Regions from separate parts of the Homo sapiens genome. Here region 2 is linked to region 1. A link means that fine-mapping ties the variant in region 1 to the expression of a gene that starts in the linked region. Tissue or cell type: whole blood. Region 1 holds a variant in brackets; the other region holds the start of a gene. All regions are shown on one strand. Distances are from middle to middle.

The links. PIP is the estimated chance that this variant, and not a neighbour inherited with it, causes the effect.
Region 2: MAN1C1 starts here. The variant in region 1 is fine-mapped to the expression of MAN1C1 in whole blood (TOPMed, PIP above 0.99). The same link has a PIP of 0.9 or more in blood mononuclear cells, lung and monocytes.

The regions. Positions count from the first base shown.
Region 1 is chr1:25,727,127-25,735,228 of GRCh38, forward strand. All of the region lies in intron 2 of MAN1C1 (mannosidase alpha class 1C member 1), which reads left to right. Among named protein-coding and RNA genes, the nearest start is that of SELENON, 69 kb to the right of the region's middle. The variant A/C (reference allele first, on the strand shown) is at 3,799.
Region 2 is chr1:25,613,410-25,621,506 of GRCh38, forward strand. MAN1C1 (mannosidase alpha class 1C member 1) reads left to right here and starts at 3,382. Exons shown (of 12, transcript NM_020379.4): 1 at 3,382-4,928. The coding sequence starts at 4,389. RefSeq lists enhancers at 2,648-2,817, 7,024-7,073, 7,942-8,097 and silencers at 3,008-3,297, 3,318-3,607.

The sequences.
Region 1 (8,102 bases):
TCATGGAGGCTGCTAGACCCAGCTCAGATTACTACCCAGTGGACTAGCTGGATGACCTTAGGCACTAGTCATTTAAATTCCTCCTCTGTGAACCGGGTTTAACAACACTGCTCAGGGTGGGGATAAGGAACAAACAGACTAAGTCCTGCCTGTGGATAGACTTTGGAAATGGATACTTCATGTCCTTGTCGTAGTCCAGGGCACTGGTGGTATTTCCTCTGCCAGGTGATTTGAGAACTCCTCACGGGTCCCCAGTGAGAGGCGGTGAGCGACTGTGTGAAGGAATGAGACAGCATGGGAGGTGGAGGAGGTTGGTGTCTGCACCCACCCTGCCCGAGAACGGGACAGTGGGGGATACGTGCAGGACAAAATGGCCTTGCCCCCGACTCCAGGCTCCAGAGGCTGGGGGTGAGCATTCTCTACCCCCATCCCAAAGCTATGGCAGAGGAACCCTGCAGCAAAAGGACACGGAGTGCCCATGGTATTCTGTGTGAAAGTCACTGAGGCCAGAGACAGCTCTTCACATCCTGTGTTGCTCAGGCCTTCCCCACCCTGTCCCCCTGTGGGGTCTCAGCCCCAGTTCTGGGCAGGGAGTGTGGGATGCTTAGGAGCGGGGTACAGGCTGAGCCTCAGCCACCCTCACGGGAATCCATCCTGGGCCCCTGGCCCTGGCCAGACAAGCTGGCAGATTGCCCAGCCACATCCAAAGGCAATGCATGCTCTGAGCACAGAGCCTGGCCGAGGACACCAGAGAGCAGGAGAGCGTGGGGGCCGTGCAGACACATGACAAGGCTTTGATAACACAGTCTACCTGCCATGTCTGAAAAATCAGGCGTGCGTCTTCCTGGCAGGGAATGCAGTTTCCTGTTAATGAGTTGTGAGAGGTTGGAACAAGTTATCAGAGAGAGGCTGGGAGGACTGCTTCCCGGGGCAGCTTCCAGGAGATGGAAGCCAGGCCCCAGCCTCCTCCCTTTGGGCGGCTCAGCTATTTGAGGAGCATCTCTCAAAGGGCTGAACTAAAGCCTGGAGTGAGAGTCCCCAGCCTAGGCCAGGACCTGCTGGTGGATCTTGAGCCCCTGCTGCGAGCTTCTCCGGGCCTTAGCTGCTGCACTCCCCTGCCTCAGCAGGGACTGGCCGGAGTCCCCTCCCCTCTGCAACCTCGGGTTCTCAGAGGGACCAAAGCCAGTAACCCCATGACAGACGGATCTCTGTGGTTCCTCGCTGCTTGCAAAGCACTCACACTTGTCATCGTATTAGGCACTCACAACAATCTGTTTGAGAGAAACAGGCTCAGGGAGGTGAAGTGCTCAAGGTCATTCTGCCTGGTGGGTCTGTTTAGGGTAATGCTGGCTGCTGTGACAGATAAACCCAGAGACTTCAGTGCTTGGAGACAACAGACATTTCTTTCTTGCTCATGTAAAGTCATATTGATGGTGGGGAGAGCTCTGTTCCCTCTGATGACTCAGGCACTCAGGGTGATGGAGGCGCCATCATCTTCAGGTTGTAACACCCAAGATTGCCTCGGCCTTGGAATATCCATGAATGGTTTTTATGGGCCAGGCCTCAAAGTGGTGTATGGAGCCTATGCCCACACCCCATTGGGTCCTGCGGCTCCACCTAGATGCAGAAAGGCTGGGAAACGCAGTGCCTGCCTGGGCGGCTATTTCCCTTCAACGGCTCTGTCTAAGGAAGGGGAACTGGTGCAGAATCGTTGCTGGCACAGTAGAGGATATTACCCTCAAATAAAGGCTGGGGACCCCTAGTGAGAGTTTGGTCACCTAGGCGTCAACAAGTGCCCAGTGTGGTCTGAGACCTGGAAGAAGACTCGCTGTGTGGCTCTGACCCCAGAAGGATTCTGGATCTCCAAATGCTGTTCCAGCCTTCTCGGCAGCCTCTTGCCCCTTCGTTAGCTTCTAATGTACATGGTTTGCTCATGGCCCAGCCCTGAGACACCCCTCTGTGGCTCCTCATGGCCCTCAACATAGAGACCAAACCCCTTGGCCTGCATTTGAAGTCTTTCCCAGGATGGCTCCAGCTGACTGGCCACATTGCTCCCCTTATTCCCTCCCCCGAAACCTATGCTCCTCCCTGACCAGCTTCCTACCTCAGGGCCTTTGCACATGCTGTGCTCTCTGCCTGGAATGTCCCCCCTGTTGCTCTCCACCCTGCGGGTTCCTGCTCATCCTTCCCGATCCATCACAGGTCCATGAGGCTTCCTGAGCAGAGTTAGCCACTCGGCCAGCATTTATTGAGAGCTTACTGTGTACCAGGCACTGCAATAAAAGCTTCCCAGGAATTAACTCATTGAGCTCCCAAGCCTACAAGGCAGGCGTCCCATTTTCTTTTTCTTCTTTTTTTTTTTTTTGAGATGGTGTCTCGCTCTGTTGCCCAGGCTGGAGTGCAATGATGTGATCTAGTTCTGTCACCCAGGCTGGAGTGCAATGGCATGATCTCGGCTCACTGCAACCTCTGCCTCCAGGGTTCAAGCAATTCTCCTGCCTCAGCCTCCCGAGTAGCTGGGACTACAGGCGCCCACCACCACGCCCAGCTAATTTTTATATTTTTAATAGAGACAGGGTGTCACCATGTTGGCCAGGATAGTCTCCATCTCTTGACCTCATGATCTGCCCACCTCGGTCTCCCAAAGTGTTGGGATTACAGGCATGAGCCCCCGTGCCTGGCCAGGCATCCCATTTTCTAGATGAGGAACCCAGGTCTGTGAGGAGTGTGTGTGAGGTCACACAGCTGCAGAGTGGCAAAGTCAAATTCCAAACCCAGGTCCCCGTGGCTCACAGCCAGGCCTTAACAGCTGCATAAACTTCCACCTATTCTTAGCACCTGTCACAAGGCTTCATAATCATTCATTTACTTGCTGTTTTGCTGGGAAATTGCTTACTGTCTTTCTGAGAAAGCAGCTGCAGCCTCCGTAAGGACAGAGGTCAGGCCTGATGCATCCTAGAATCTTCCTCACCACTGTCCCCACCAGCACCAAGGCCAAGGTCTGGGTGGTGATTTCCTCTCAGATAAATCCCTTACCCTTTGAGAACCAGAAAGAGAAATTCCTCAGATTATGGTCTGTCATAATCCCCTCCCTGCTTCCCTGTCAGTTTTTGACAGTTACCCTGAAACCGTTTTAAAATGATCTCAGAGGCAGAGACTGGCCTTCTCCACGCATGATTAAGCACGATGGCTTTTTAATGATTTGAGCTGTGCCTTCTGTGAATTGACAAAAATGGATTACCATATATTTCTGAAAGCCACACTGCCAAAATCAGATTTTTTTTTTTTTTTAGTTTTCTCAGCCATCCTCGAAAACCTTAGCTGAGAATGACAAATACTAGGGGCTTTAATTGTTCAGTCACATGAGGGTGGTGCCTCCTGAGTTCTGAGAACTGCTCTCGCCAGGAAAGCCTTGAAATGCTCCTGGGCTTCGATCTTTAGGAAATTGAACTGTGTGTTTTCTCTGAAGCGGAGAGCTGTCTCCTGGGCCGTGGCACGTTTGCTGCATTTGTGAATTGTTTGGGCACTGAGGTCTGAAACAGAGGCAGTTCTTGCCCCAGAAGCATGCTCAGGGCTGTCACGACTGGATGAGGCCTGGCTTGGCTGTGGGTGGGTGGACAGGGCAAGCGGGGAGGGGGTTCTCCCTGTGTGGGCACTTCCTCCTCCTTTTCACTCTCCTGCCAGACTCTGTTCATGGAGTCCTGCACCCTTCACCTGATTCAGGCCACCCACATCTGCGACAGGGTTATTGCTAGTACCTTGGACAGATGCAGACTCGCTGCTGGCTCAGAGAGGTTA[A/C]GTCATTTGGCTGTGGTCACAGGCTGGTAAGCCACAGAGCCAAGGCACATGGTTTGACCACAAGCCTGTGCTTCCCCCACAATCGCTGCTGCTTTAAAAAAATCAAATGAGGCCAGGCCTGGTGGCTCATGCCTGTAATCCCAGCACTTTGGGAGGTCGAGGTGGACAGACCGCCTGAGCCCAGGAGTTTGAGACCAGCCTGGGCAACATGGCGAAACCCCGTCTGTACAAAAAAATTAGCCAGGCGTGGTGGCATGCTCATGTAGTCCAGCTACTCAGGAGGCTGAGGTGGGAGGATCACGTGAGCCCAGGGAAGTCAAGGCTGCAGTGAGCTGTGATCGTGCCACTGCACTGCAGCTTGGACAACAGAGTGAGACCCTGACTCAAAAAATAACAATAATCATCATCATCGTCATCATCATCATCATCATCATCATCATCATCATCAAATGAGAGGCAACTCATAGGTATCCTCTGTAGTCCATTTACATTTAAGGAAAACAAACCTCATTGTGTATCCACTAGCATCAGTGGCTTCAGTCGTCTACATTATCTGCATTTCACAGAGGAGGATGTTGAGGCTCATGAGATAAGGTAGCTGACCAGAAGTCACACAGCTAGTAATAGGACAATTATGATTTTATTCTAAGTCTACCTGATTCCAAAGTTTCTGCCCTACTCTGTCCTTTGTAGGAATCTGTCTCAGGCTCCTTCCTCCCTCTCTAACACAGGTAAGTCTGGCAAGGGGAAGCCTGAGTGGCTTCTGTGAGGTTCTGGAAGGGGCCTGTGGACCAAAGAAAAGGGAGGCCCTTGGTCTATAGGAGTGTGGGCTGGTCTCCTCTTTACTGATGCTGGGAGTAAACCAGATGGATTCGTCATGGCCTGATGGAGAGAAGGCCACCTGTCTGGCCTGTGGTCATGTGTGCTCTCGGCTCCTGCTCTGTTCTATGTCAGGGTTAATTTACTATATATTTACTCCAAACCTACCATGCACCTGGCATCACACTAGGCTCTTTGGTGGCTCCAAAGATGCATCTGGCAGGATCTCTTCCTTCCAGGGCTACCATCTGTCAGAGAAAAAGACCAACTCAGACCCTCCTATGAGTGAGCCTGGGCCAGGGGATCAGTGGTGGGGCCCAGAATGGTGTAGGTAAGAAGAGCCATCCCTCGAGGGCATCTGGGGGGGCTCCTGCAGAGGGTGCCCAGGCTCCTAGGGAGAGGCGGCAGCTCTCTGCAAGGTAGTGCCTGCTGCAGGGGGGCCTTGCTCCAGCCCAGAGGTGGGAGATAGGGTCAGGCTAAGCCACAGGCCTTCAGGAGGTAGCCTGTGGTCTCAAAGCCAAGAGTACTTCCCTGGGACCTTCTTGGACCCTCCAAACCAGGCCCAGTCTCCCAAGTTGTGCAGGAATGGAATGGCACAGCAGTGAAGGGCAGAGCAACCAGGGAAGATGGCCAGAGTTGAGTCCTGGCTCCCTGTTCATCAGCCCTGGGAGGTTTAGATGATTCTCTAAGCCTCAGTTTCCCCATCTGTAAAACAGGGGCAGGAATTGCACCCTCCTCCTCAGGTGTTGTGAGACTTAAAAGAGGTGCTGTCTGTGGTGCGCTCAGCAACATGGTGTCGGCCTTCACGCAGGTTTGCGTCTGCGGCGTCCGGCATTTTGCATGATCTCTAGCCCTCAGGATGGTTTGCAAGGTGGAGGTCTTGCTCCCACTGTGGAGGATGAGGAAACTGAGGCAGCTAGTAAGTGGTGGATCCAAGCGTGGGTTTCCAGGACTCAACCCATTCTGCTGGCCCACTGCCTGCAGCTAAGCTATCCCAGCAACTACAAAGACCCTCCCTGGGGCTCAGCTCCCTACCAGGCTCTCCTGGCACTGCCTCTGCTATCTCTTAATGTTTTACAGGGGTGAATGGGACCTCTTTGATTTCCTTTCTTTTCTCCTTTCCAATAATCATCATTAATCTTGTTATCAGAGCCATGCATCTGCACCTCTTGGCTGTGGTCCACAGGCCGTGTTTGCCATGATCAATGCATAGCTCTGTGTGGCCACAATGTATACCCAAGACAGCACTGCAACCCTGTGTCCGTGGGCCTGGGAGGCTCTGGCACTGTCAAAGACAGCTGGAGGCTCCCCCAGGAGCTGAGGTGAGGCACCTGGCTCACATGCCCTGTGGTCTTGTTGAATTCTTGTTCCTGGACTGGTAAACAGCTACCCCCACAGCTGGGGAGCATCTCCAGCTGCCTTCACAGGGTCTCAAAGCACAGACCCAGGTGCTCCTGCCCCCGTCCTCCTCATCCGTAAGTGCCTAGAGGACAATTCACCAAACCAAGATGGGTAGCTCTGGAGTCCCGTTGGGCCCAGCCACTCATCATACAGCAGCCAGTCAGATCCAGTTCCTAAGCCATCCAGACCCCCTTTCTTGAAGCCCCAGGGCCATGTGTGATCTGGCCTCCACCCCCTCACTGCCCACTACTTTCCCCCTTTCCCGCTGCACACAACCTTTATCTTGGGATTTTCAATGTGCTGTGCATTCTGCCCGCCGTGCCCTTGGCCCCTTTCTCCTGGGCCTCCTTCAAGCCTCTGCCCGAACGCTGCCCATCTCCTGGCTGTGCTCCCCCGCCACACCTAAATGGAGCTCCTCCTTAGCCACTCTGTTTTTCTGCATCACACACGTTACATTTAGATGTGTCTCTGTGTGTCTTTCCCCTCATTCCACTAGGCTCCAGTGCCAGGCACACCCCGAGTACCCAAAAAATACATTTGGGATGAATGAATGAATGAATCTTGAACAAGTGACTTAATTCCTCTAAGCCTCAATCTTCGTCTGTAAGAGGGGGACAATGAGTTTTTATTTTGTTTATTTATTTATTTATTATTTTTATTTTTATTTTTTTTTGAGACGGAGTCTTTCTCTGTCGCCCAGGCTGGAGTGCAGTGGTGTGATCTTGGCTTGCTGCAAGCTCCGCCTCCCGTGCTCACGCCATTCTCCTGCCTCTGCCTCCTGAGTAGCTGGGACTACAGGCGCCCGCCACCACGCCCGGCTAATTTTTTATATTTTTAGTAGAGATGGGGTTTCACCGTGTTAGCCAGGATGGTCTTGATCTCCTGACCTCGTGATCCGCCCACCTCGGCCTCCCAAGGTGCTGGGATTACAGGCGTGAGCCACTGCGCCCAGCCGAGCTTTTATTTTTTTGATTTTTAATTTATTTTAATTTATTTATTTTTGAGACAGAGTCTCTCTCTGTCACCCAGGCTGGAGTGCAGTAGCGCAATCACGGCTCACTGCAACCTCCACCTCATGGGTTCAAGCGATTCTCATGCCACACCCTCCTAAGTAGCTAGGACTACAGGTGTGCACCACCATGCCCAGCTGACTTTTGTATTTTTAGTAGAGATGGGGTTTCACCATGTTGGCCAGGCTGGTCTCGAACTCCTGGCCTCAAATGATCCACCCACCTCAGCCTTTCAAAGTACTGGGATTACTGGCATGAGCCACTGCACCTGGCCCAATGATAGAGTTTTTAAAAGATGGATGTGAAACAAACAGCACAGTGCCAGGCAAAAAAGGATTGTTCTTAACTTCTGATAAGGAAGGGTTGGCTGGCATTTAGAATTCCACATTCCACAAGAAGCTTTTGTGGGGGTGTCCACCCTGGGCTAGGATCTCAGAGCCTCATGGAGTCAGTGTCTGGCTCCCAGCACCTCACACCACAGAGGAATTGCCTCTGGCCAGGGCACTGGCTGTCTAGGTGGCCTCCTCACATAGAGGCAGTGCAGGGAGGGTGTCCAATCCTTCACTCCGCAGATCCCAAAGGCACCTTGACCCTGCAGGGTCTGTGTAGGCTTAAATCAACCAGGCTTAGATCTAGCCATGAAGACACTCCCTGCCTGGAATGGACTTGAGAAAAGGACACAAATTACTGTAATAGAAGTTGAGAAACAATGCCTTTGATATAAACGTTCAGAGGAGAAAAACCTCAGATCCACGTGGGAGAGTCAGGGATGTCTTCACGGAGGAAGAAACATTTTATCTAGAAGTTAAAGTAGACATTGGATTGAGACGTGTGGGGACATTGTGTGTTAGAAGAGGGCATGCCAGGTAGAGAAAACAGCTTGAAGAAAGGGCTGGAGGCTGGAGAGAGTGGGCCACATGGAAGCAGTAGTTTGCCTAGAATGTGGAACACATGAAAAGACGATTAAGACATAGGCGGCCAGTCGCGGTGGCTCACGCCTGTTATCCCAGGCCTGTCTCGTGGGAGACCGAGACAGGTGGATCACTTGAGGCCAGGAGTTTGAGACAAGCCTGG
Region 2 (8,097 bases), 110 kb before region 1:
GCTGTATCCCCTGCCTCTCTGTACCTGGCACATAGTAGATGTTCAATAAGTAGTTTTTCACTGGATGAATGAATCAATAGTAACAAGGGACCATGCTTTGCTCACCTTTGTGTCCAAAACTAGTGCAATACCTTGCATCTAATTTGAATAAATATTTGTTGACAGAATAAATAGATTTTTTAGAAATAGCTGTTTGTTTCTGTTCCCAGTTCCATTTGAATTTCTGAATTAAACTGAGAAAGATACTGTGAAGGTTAATTTTGTGTGTCAATTTGACTGGGCTACGGGATGCTTACATAGCTGGTAAAACATTACTTCTGGGTGTGTCTGTAAGGGAATTTCTGGAAGAGATTAGTAATTGAATCAGTAAATTGAGTAAAGAAGATCTGCCCTTACCAGTATGGGTGGGCAGCATCCAATCCACTGATGGCTGAAACAGAACTAAAAGGAAGAGGAATGGCAAATCCATGCTCTGTGCTTGAGCTGGAACATCCATCTTCTCCTGCCCTTGGACATCAGCTCTCCTGGTTCTCGGGTCTTCAGACTCAGACTGGGATTTACACTATCGGCTCTTGTGGTTCTCAGGCCTCCTGGCTTGGACTGGAACTACACCACCAGCTTTTTAGACCTCCAGATTGCAGATGGCAGATTGTGGAACTTCTCAGCCTTCCATAATCACAGAAGTCAATCCCTCATAATAAATCTCTTTTTATATATCTATATATAGCCTATTGGTTCTGTTCTGGAGAACTCTGATTAATATAGATACTTATAACTCATCCCAAGTCTCTCTAAGCCTTGGTATTCTTATCTGTAAAATGGGGCTATTAATAATTATCTACCACAAAGATTATTCTGAAAAGTAAATAAGACAATATGTATTTGGCACATAGAAAATGTTAGTTCACTGTTCTTCCATTCCCCGAGCTTCAGTTTCTACATCTGTGAAATGGGCATCTACTCACTCATTTCTTCATTCATTTACTGAGCAAACACAGTGCCCATGTGGAAGGCATTGTGGTTAAGACCCGGGGCAGTTAGAGAAGTTAGAGAGTTAGAGAAGTGAGGAAGCCGTGGTGAAGAACTGAGCATCTGCTTTGTGACAACACACCAATAGTCTTTAAAAGTCAGTGGGAGAAGAGCCACGGGATGTATGAGGTCTCTGGGGGCTAGAGGTGTGGGGCAAGGGGACACCCAGGGTTTCAGAGAGCTTTTTAGAGAGACTGGTATCTCCCTAGCAAGTGATGGTATCAACAACTTGGTGTGATCACCAACATCACATCACTTTGCAATGGAGTTACCTGCTGGGGCCTCTGGTTTTCATAGCCTGAGTGTGAAAGGCACGTCAGTCCTGCTGCAGCCCCACTTTCCACCCTGGCTCACAGAGCACACCAGAGTTTGGTCAGAGTGTCACATCACAGTGAGCATCTAGTTCAAACAGACATTTCCTTCTGAGATTCAGCTCTGCTCTTCTCCCTTTCTGGATCCTACCTTCACAGGGGACTGAACAGTGATTCCCCTACACTCTCAATGAGGAACAACACAGATGATGACTCTAATGAATGCTGGGTCCCTGCCTGGTTCTCCAAAGACAAGGTTGCCCTTTCCTGCAGTGGGACCCAGTGAGGCGATGCTTGGGTGTTGGAGACATGGGTGAGGCCAGGCCAGGTCTCTGGGCTCCTGCACCCAAATGGGTCACATGCTTATCTCTGATTTGCACAGCTGGCTCCACATCAACCTGCCAACGAAACTCACAAGAGATTGAAATATCTGAATTAGAATTTTATATTTAAGCTGCATATATTTGTGGGATTGGGAAGGATTAGTCATCTCCAGTGACCAAAATGTTTGCACCTGTTACCCACTTTCATTTTCAGTTGAGAGAAAGTTGCATGCCAGGGATATTTAAACATCGAGGGTGGGTCTGCTGTCAGTGGTCTGGCCAGAGGTAGAAGGATGACTGAGTCCCAGCCGCCCATCCCCAGCAGGCCTCAGGGAAGAAGCAAGATTTACGAGGCGAGAGCCTGCCTGGCCCGCTTCTTCTGTCGGGAAAGGCTTCCCTGCAGTATTTTCTGTCTCGTCAACACTGCATTTCATTTTAAATTGCAGCTGAAAGTAGATATTTTCCCTCTTGCCTATTACAAACCTCTTAATTTGTCTCTCCCTCTGCTGTTATTTGTCTCTATAAAGTGTTTTGCATGAAAGACCCACACAGCACAATGTTGCTTCACCCTGGGTTAGGTTTAACAGGAAGGGAAGATGCAGAGACTAAGTCCAAGGAGGAAGATGTGAGGGCCTTGGGGTTGAGGACACGCGTGTCTGGGAGTTGATGCCTGGCTGTTTTTGGAGGTTATCTGTTGCCTGAGTGTCTGTGGGTATGCGGGTGCACATGTCCATGTTTGTACTAATTTACATATATGTCTATGCATACTGTGGTATAATCACTTGGGTGTCCATACCCAAATTAAGTGTATGTTTGAGTGCATGTACACACCCACATGCCAGTCTCTGTGTGCATATAGATCTATGCCCAGACGCACACATGTGCATATAAACACACGTAGGCATCAAGGTAGACGTCCGTCACATTATGTGTGTGGTCTTCTGTAGACACGCCCGGGGCTCTCTTCCTTTCGCTGCTTCTCAAGGCTGCGGTCAGCCTCCCTCCGTGCTCCACCCAGGAGCCCTGGCCCCGTTTAGGGTTGTGGGAAAAGGAAGGCACGCCAGTGGTCTGCGAGGGGGCCAGTGGAAACATCACCTCCGCCGACCCGGCCGCGGTCACAGCTCTCTGGCTTGGCTCCAGCCACCAGCAGCACCCCTGCAGCCCGGCGTTAGCGCTGAGAAGCCCGGGGCAGCCGCCAGGGCGCGGGCTGCCAGCTCCCTGACAACCCCGGGCTGGCACTCGGGGGCGAGAGAGGTCACCCAGCGACGGGCACACCCCTCCAGAGCAACACCGTCTCCGGCCCGCTTCCGGGGGCCACCAACCCGAGCCTCGCGGGCGGGCTGGGGGGTGGTCTCTGTCGCTTGGGGTCCAGCGAAGGCTGGGCAGTAACCAATGGACGACTGTGGCCCAACGGGGATCCCTCGGATGCAGCCAATGCCCTCGTTGCGCTCTCCGCCCCCGCCCTCGCCTGCCCCGCGCCGCTGGACCATTGGCGCCCGCTGGATGGGGGGTGCGCGCGACGCCTGCCCTTCGGGGAGGGCGGGGCTTGGAGCGGGCTGCGCTCCCGCCCGCGCTCGGCCTCTGCCCCGCCCCCGGACGCGCGGCCCTCAGCCGGCTGCGGCGCGGCGGCGGCGGGAGGGGGCGCGGGGCGCGCGCGTGGGCGTGGCCGGCGGGCGTGGCCGGCGGGCGGCAGGAGGCGGGGCGGCGGGCGCTGTCGCAGTGAAAGCCCGAGCGGCGGCGGCGGCGGGGACGGCGGTGGAGGCGGCCGGGTGGCTGTGCGCGCGTGTGGGGCGCAGGCTCGGCGGCAGCGGCCGGTCTGGAGCGGCCGCTGCGAGGAAGACAGCTGCAGCGGGGGAGGCGCGGCCAGGGCTGCGCGCTCCGCGGAGCCGGCGGGGCCGGGAACAGGTGATCCCAGTGGGAGCCCCGCGCCCTGCCGAGTTCGAGGGGCGGGAGCCCGCGCTCCCGGGCGCATCTGCAGCCGCCCAGCCGCGGCTCCGGACCCAGGCATCCCTGCGCTGTCTGGGGCCCGGGGGAAGCCCCCTGCCCCCGCAGGCTCGGAAGTGCCTGCTCCTGCTCCCTGGCCACTCCGGCTCCCAGCTCCCGGCGCCCTCTCCGCGGCGGAGAAAGTTGTGGACGTGTCCCGATAGTCGAGCCCGGGCGCTGTCGCGACCGGGCCGGGTGTGCGCGCGCTCGGGGCGGCGCTGACACGCCAGCCCCCCATCGCCTCGGTCCCCTCCGGAAACTGCTTCTGAAGCTGAAACTTTGGGCGCCTACCAGCGCGGGCGGGAGCCTAGGGGGCGGAGGGCGGCTTGGTGCGGGCCTGCGGGCGCCCCTCGGCGCGGACAGCCGGGACGCCGCGGACGGCATGTGACGGTCCCGGCGGCCGCAGCGCGGGAAGGCGCGGGCCCCGGCGCGGCGGGGAGGGCTCGGCCGGAGGGGAGGCTGCGGCGCGCGGCCGGTCGCTGCGGGCCCGGGCCCCAAGCCGTGCCGCTCCGCTCGCCCGGGCCCCGCCGAGGCCGCTGCGCCCCCGCCTCCTCGCGGGAGGACTCGCTCCAAACTCCCTGAACTTCGGGGACAGTCCCCCGAAGCGGCGAAACTCTCAGGGTTGGCAACCCTGCCCAGGGACCCCCATCCCGGGCGGCGCTCCGGACGCCCTCCCCTCACCGCGCCCCCGCAGACACGTGCCTGGACTCCGAGGGCTTCTGGAGCCACCGGCCGGGCCACGATGCTCATGAGGAAAGTGCCCGGCTTCGTCCCGGCCTCCCCGTGGGGGCTGCGGCTGCCGCAGAAGTTCCTCTTCCTCCTCTTCCTCTCGGGCCTGGTCACCCTGTGCTTCGGGGCCCTCTTCCTGCTGCCCCACTCCTCTCGCCTCAAGCGCCTCTTCCTGGCCCCCCGGACCCAGCAGCCTGGTCTGGAAGTGGTGGCTGAAATCGCCGGCCATGCCCCGGCCCGCGAGCAGGAGCCGCCTCCCAACCCGGCCCCCGCCGCGCCGGCCCCGGGCGAGGATGACCCCAGCAGCTGGGCCAGTCCCCGCCGCAGGAAAGGGGGGCTGCGGCGCACCCGCCCCACTGGACCCCGCGAGGAGGCCACGGCGGCCCGGGGCAATAGCATCCCGGCCTCCAGGCCCGGGGACGAGGGCGTCCCTTTCCGCTTTGACTTCAACGCATTCCGGAGCCGTCTCCGCCACCCGGTCCTGGGAACGAGGGCCGATGAGAGTCAGGAGCCCCAGAGCCAAGTGCGAGCCCAGCGGGAGAAAATCAAGGAGGTATGGACTCAGCCCCCAAACTCCTCCCACCAACTGCCCCCTCTAAGGAGAGAAGACCCTCTGGCGCTCCCACCCCTTTCCCTTGCCTCAGTCACTCCTGGTCCCAGGTCTACTTCTGGCCCTGCAGACTGCACTTTGCACCTTCCCCTTTCCTCCCAAATGTCCCACCTTCTTTCCTCCCTACACAGTTTCCCACCACTCGGGTCAGTTAATCGTCCCCACCGTGACAGATGGCAGCTGAACCCCTAGACCAACTGCCCCCTCACTCCCAGACTCTGGTATGTCGTATCCAACCCCCAGGCCCAGTGAGCTCCACTCCTTCCCTTTGTGGAGTTGCTAATGAGAGTGGAGTTCAGGTTCCTTAGTGCACCCTCTTTTTGCATTTGTGGACACAGAGCCACTGGTCCCATTCTTTTTCACTGTGTGACCTTAAGTCCAAAACCCCTATAGGACCTGCTTACCTAAAAACCCAGGATTTAAGGGGGTATTTGGTGTCCTGCAAATATTTTGTAATCTAGTAAGCAACCTACAAACCAGAGGATGTTGTGCATTCTGTTTCTATTGAGCTTATTGAGCTTCAGAACAATTGTACACAATTGTACATAATTGCATATGATGCAGGAAGAGATGATAAAGCAGTGGTCATATTACAGAAGCTCCGAGGTTATTGGCATAATGAAGCAGATCTTGAGCTGGTTCCCTGTAGGGATTGTACCAGGAGGGATTTAGAAGGATCACTTTAAGTCTGAGTCTTAGTTTAAGAAATCAAAAGCAAACACAGCCTCACAAGGCTTGAAGACAGTTGCCAGCTTGCCACTGCCACTAAATATTCTGCTGGACCACTGTTAGAACTGCCTGCGTGCGGATGGTGCCCAGCAATGCAGAGGGGGCTGCAGTGACACCCCCAGGCCACGAGGGGGCCGTGGGCAAGCTGTGGGCCAGGGTCTCCTCCCTAGAAACGAGAGGATGCTCTCCCCTCCCCATGGACTCAAAGGAAAGAAAGGGCTGCTTCTGCCTGGACTTCTTGATTTGCTGCGAAGAAGTCAGCAGTTCGACCCTGATTTCCAGGAAGAGCAGGCAGCAAGGATCAGGACCTGCCCTGTCAAGACCTGCTCAGAGCCGATGGAGGGCTTAGCCAGATTATCCCCTTCTCCTTGTCTGAACCATCCTCCCTTCCAGCGCCCACCTCTCTTCCACTTCTTATCTTTTCTGTTACTCTGTTTGGAGACTTAACTAGCAATCACAGGACATTTTGTGAAGTTACAGTAGGAAGCCACAGGGAAACTGAGTGCTTGGTGTGTATGTGTGTGTGCATGTTTGTGTGCTCTCAGTTTCCAGATTCCTGTTGAAATCTCAGGTTGAGTGACAGCTGGAACTTGCAGTAGCTAAGTAAGGGGCATTCATTTCTCCCTTTCTTGTTAAGGAACTACGCTGTTGAATACTCACTTGGACCACCCATAGCTCTTTCTCAAAGCTGCTTCTGAGCACAGTGGCTCTTTTTGCCCCTCTCGACCTCCCAGTAGGGCAGTGACCCCCAGTGAAATTACATATAAATTGCATGCATGCAGTTTTTCATGGGGCATCCAGAGGTGCCATCAGATTTTCAAACTGATCCCCCAAAGGATTAAGAATTAACTATCATCTTCCTCAGAAGAGATACTCTCTGTGTTTGCATTTAGATGGTGGTCCATTTCCGAATGCCAGGGGCTGGAGAGTCATGGCAGGAAGGAAGGGCTGGCTAGTAGGGAACTTGATTCTCCCTCTCTGTGTAAGACAATTTATTTTGCCAGCAGAGTCTGGGATGATGCTTGCTGGAGTGGCTGGAGGGTGGGAAGAGGGGTGAGGATTCTGTGCTTTGCAGGTGGGTATAAAATAACATGATGGGAGAAGGTCTAAGTTGGTGACCAGATGTCTGGATCTTTCTAGCTGGTATCTCCTTGCACCCCTGGTACTAGCTGGAGGCATGCTGCATATACTTGGAGTTGGTGTTCAGCTAGCCCTCTCTTACTAATCTTGAAGAAGAGAGGGCTGGTTTCTGTTGTTTTGAAACCTATTGTCTCTTCAGGCTTCCTGCCACTGACCACGCTCTCACGACAACCTGAAAGATGTAGAGTGGGTTTTGGTTTAGTTGTTAACAGTTACCATTCCTGCTGTCCCACCCCAGGAAGAACGCATATGATGGTTGCTGGAGAATGTCTTTATTTCCTTCACATTTAAATTCTATCTGCGTCATGCCCAGGGGTAGATCATTTTAGAAAGGTGCCTGTTTTCACAAAAGGGACTGTTGCTTTCCTCCCTGGTTTGTTTATTTCCAGACATGGATTGATTAAATCCAAGGAACAGAGGGGGAGCTGGCATCAGATAAAAAAAGGCCCTGTTCTTATAAGATTTTAAAGTGAAAGTAAATATCAGGAGAGAGAGAAGGTGATAAATGAGCATGAATGAAAACTGGACACTTGGACTCTAGATCAATACTGTGCATTCATGAGCATCCCGAGAGATGGACATGGTCACCAGGTCTGTGTTGTTAAGATGGTTGAGGCTGCAGGTTCTGGGCATGCATATGTCAGGAAACACTCTGTCACTAGAACCAACTGTTTTTCCTCACTTTCCAATTTTGGAACCTTGGCAAAAGCAATGTGGTGGAGAGAGGAGACCCACAGAACATGGGTTGGAGTTTCAGCACACTCTCAACTGTCTGACTTTGGGCAACCCACCTCTCCTTCCTGGACCTTCCTGTAAAATGGGGTGAGGGAGAGGAGAATAAGCTGGTTATAGACCCTCTTGCTTCTGGCCCTGGCCCCTAAGTGAACTGGCAGTCTGGTCAGGGACTCCATAGCGGTTGGGCTTTCCGAACTCTGTTTTGAGATATCTTGTACTGGAAATCAGGGACAATGGTGTGGTGGTAGTGGTGGTGTTGATGGGGTCGTGATGTTCACTGCTGTATCTCTGTCTAGCACCTATCCAAGAATAGATATTCAGGCAGTTGGTTAAGTTAATTATTCCCATTACCCTCAGCTTGGAATCACGAAGAGTAAAGGTGTTGGCTGGAATGTAAAGGGGTGAAGGCTTGGTAGTAGCCTTGCCTTTCAGATCTGAGGATAATATAGGAAATGGGGGATGTCATTCATAGGCGGGTTTCTTATGGATTCAAGTTCAAACAGACTTG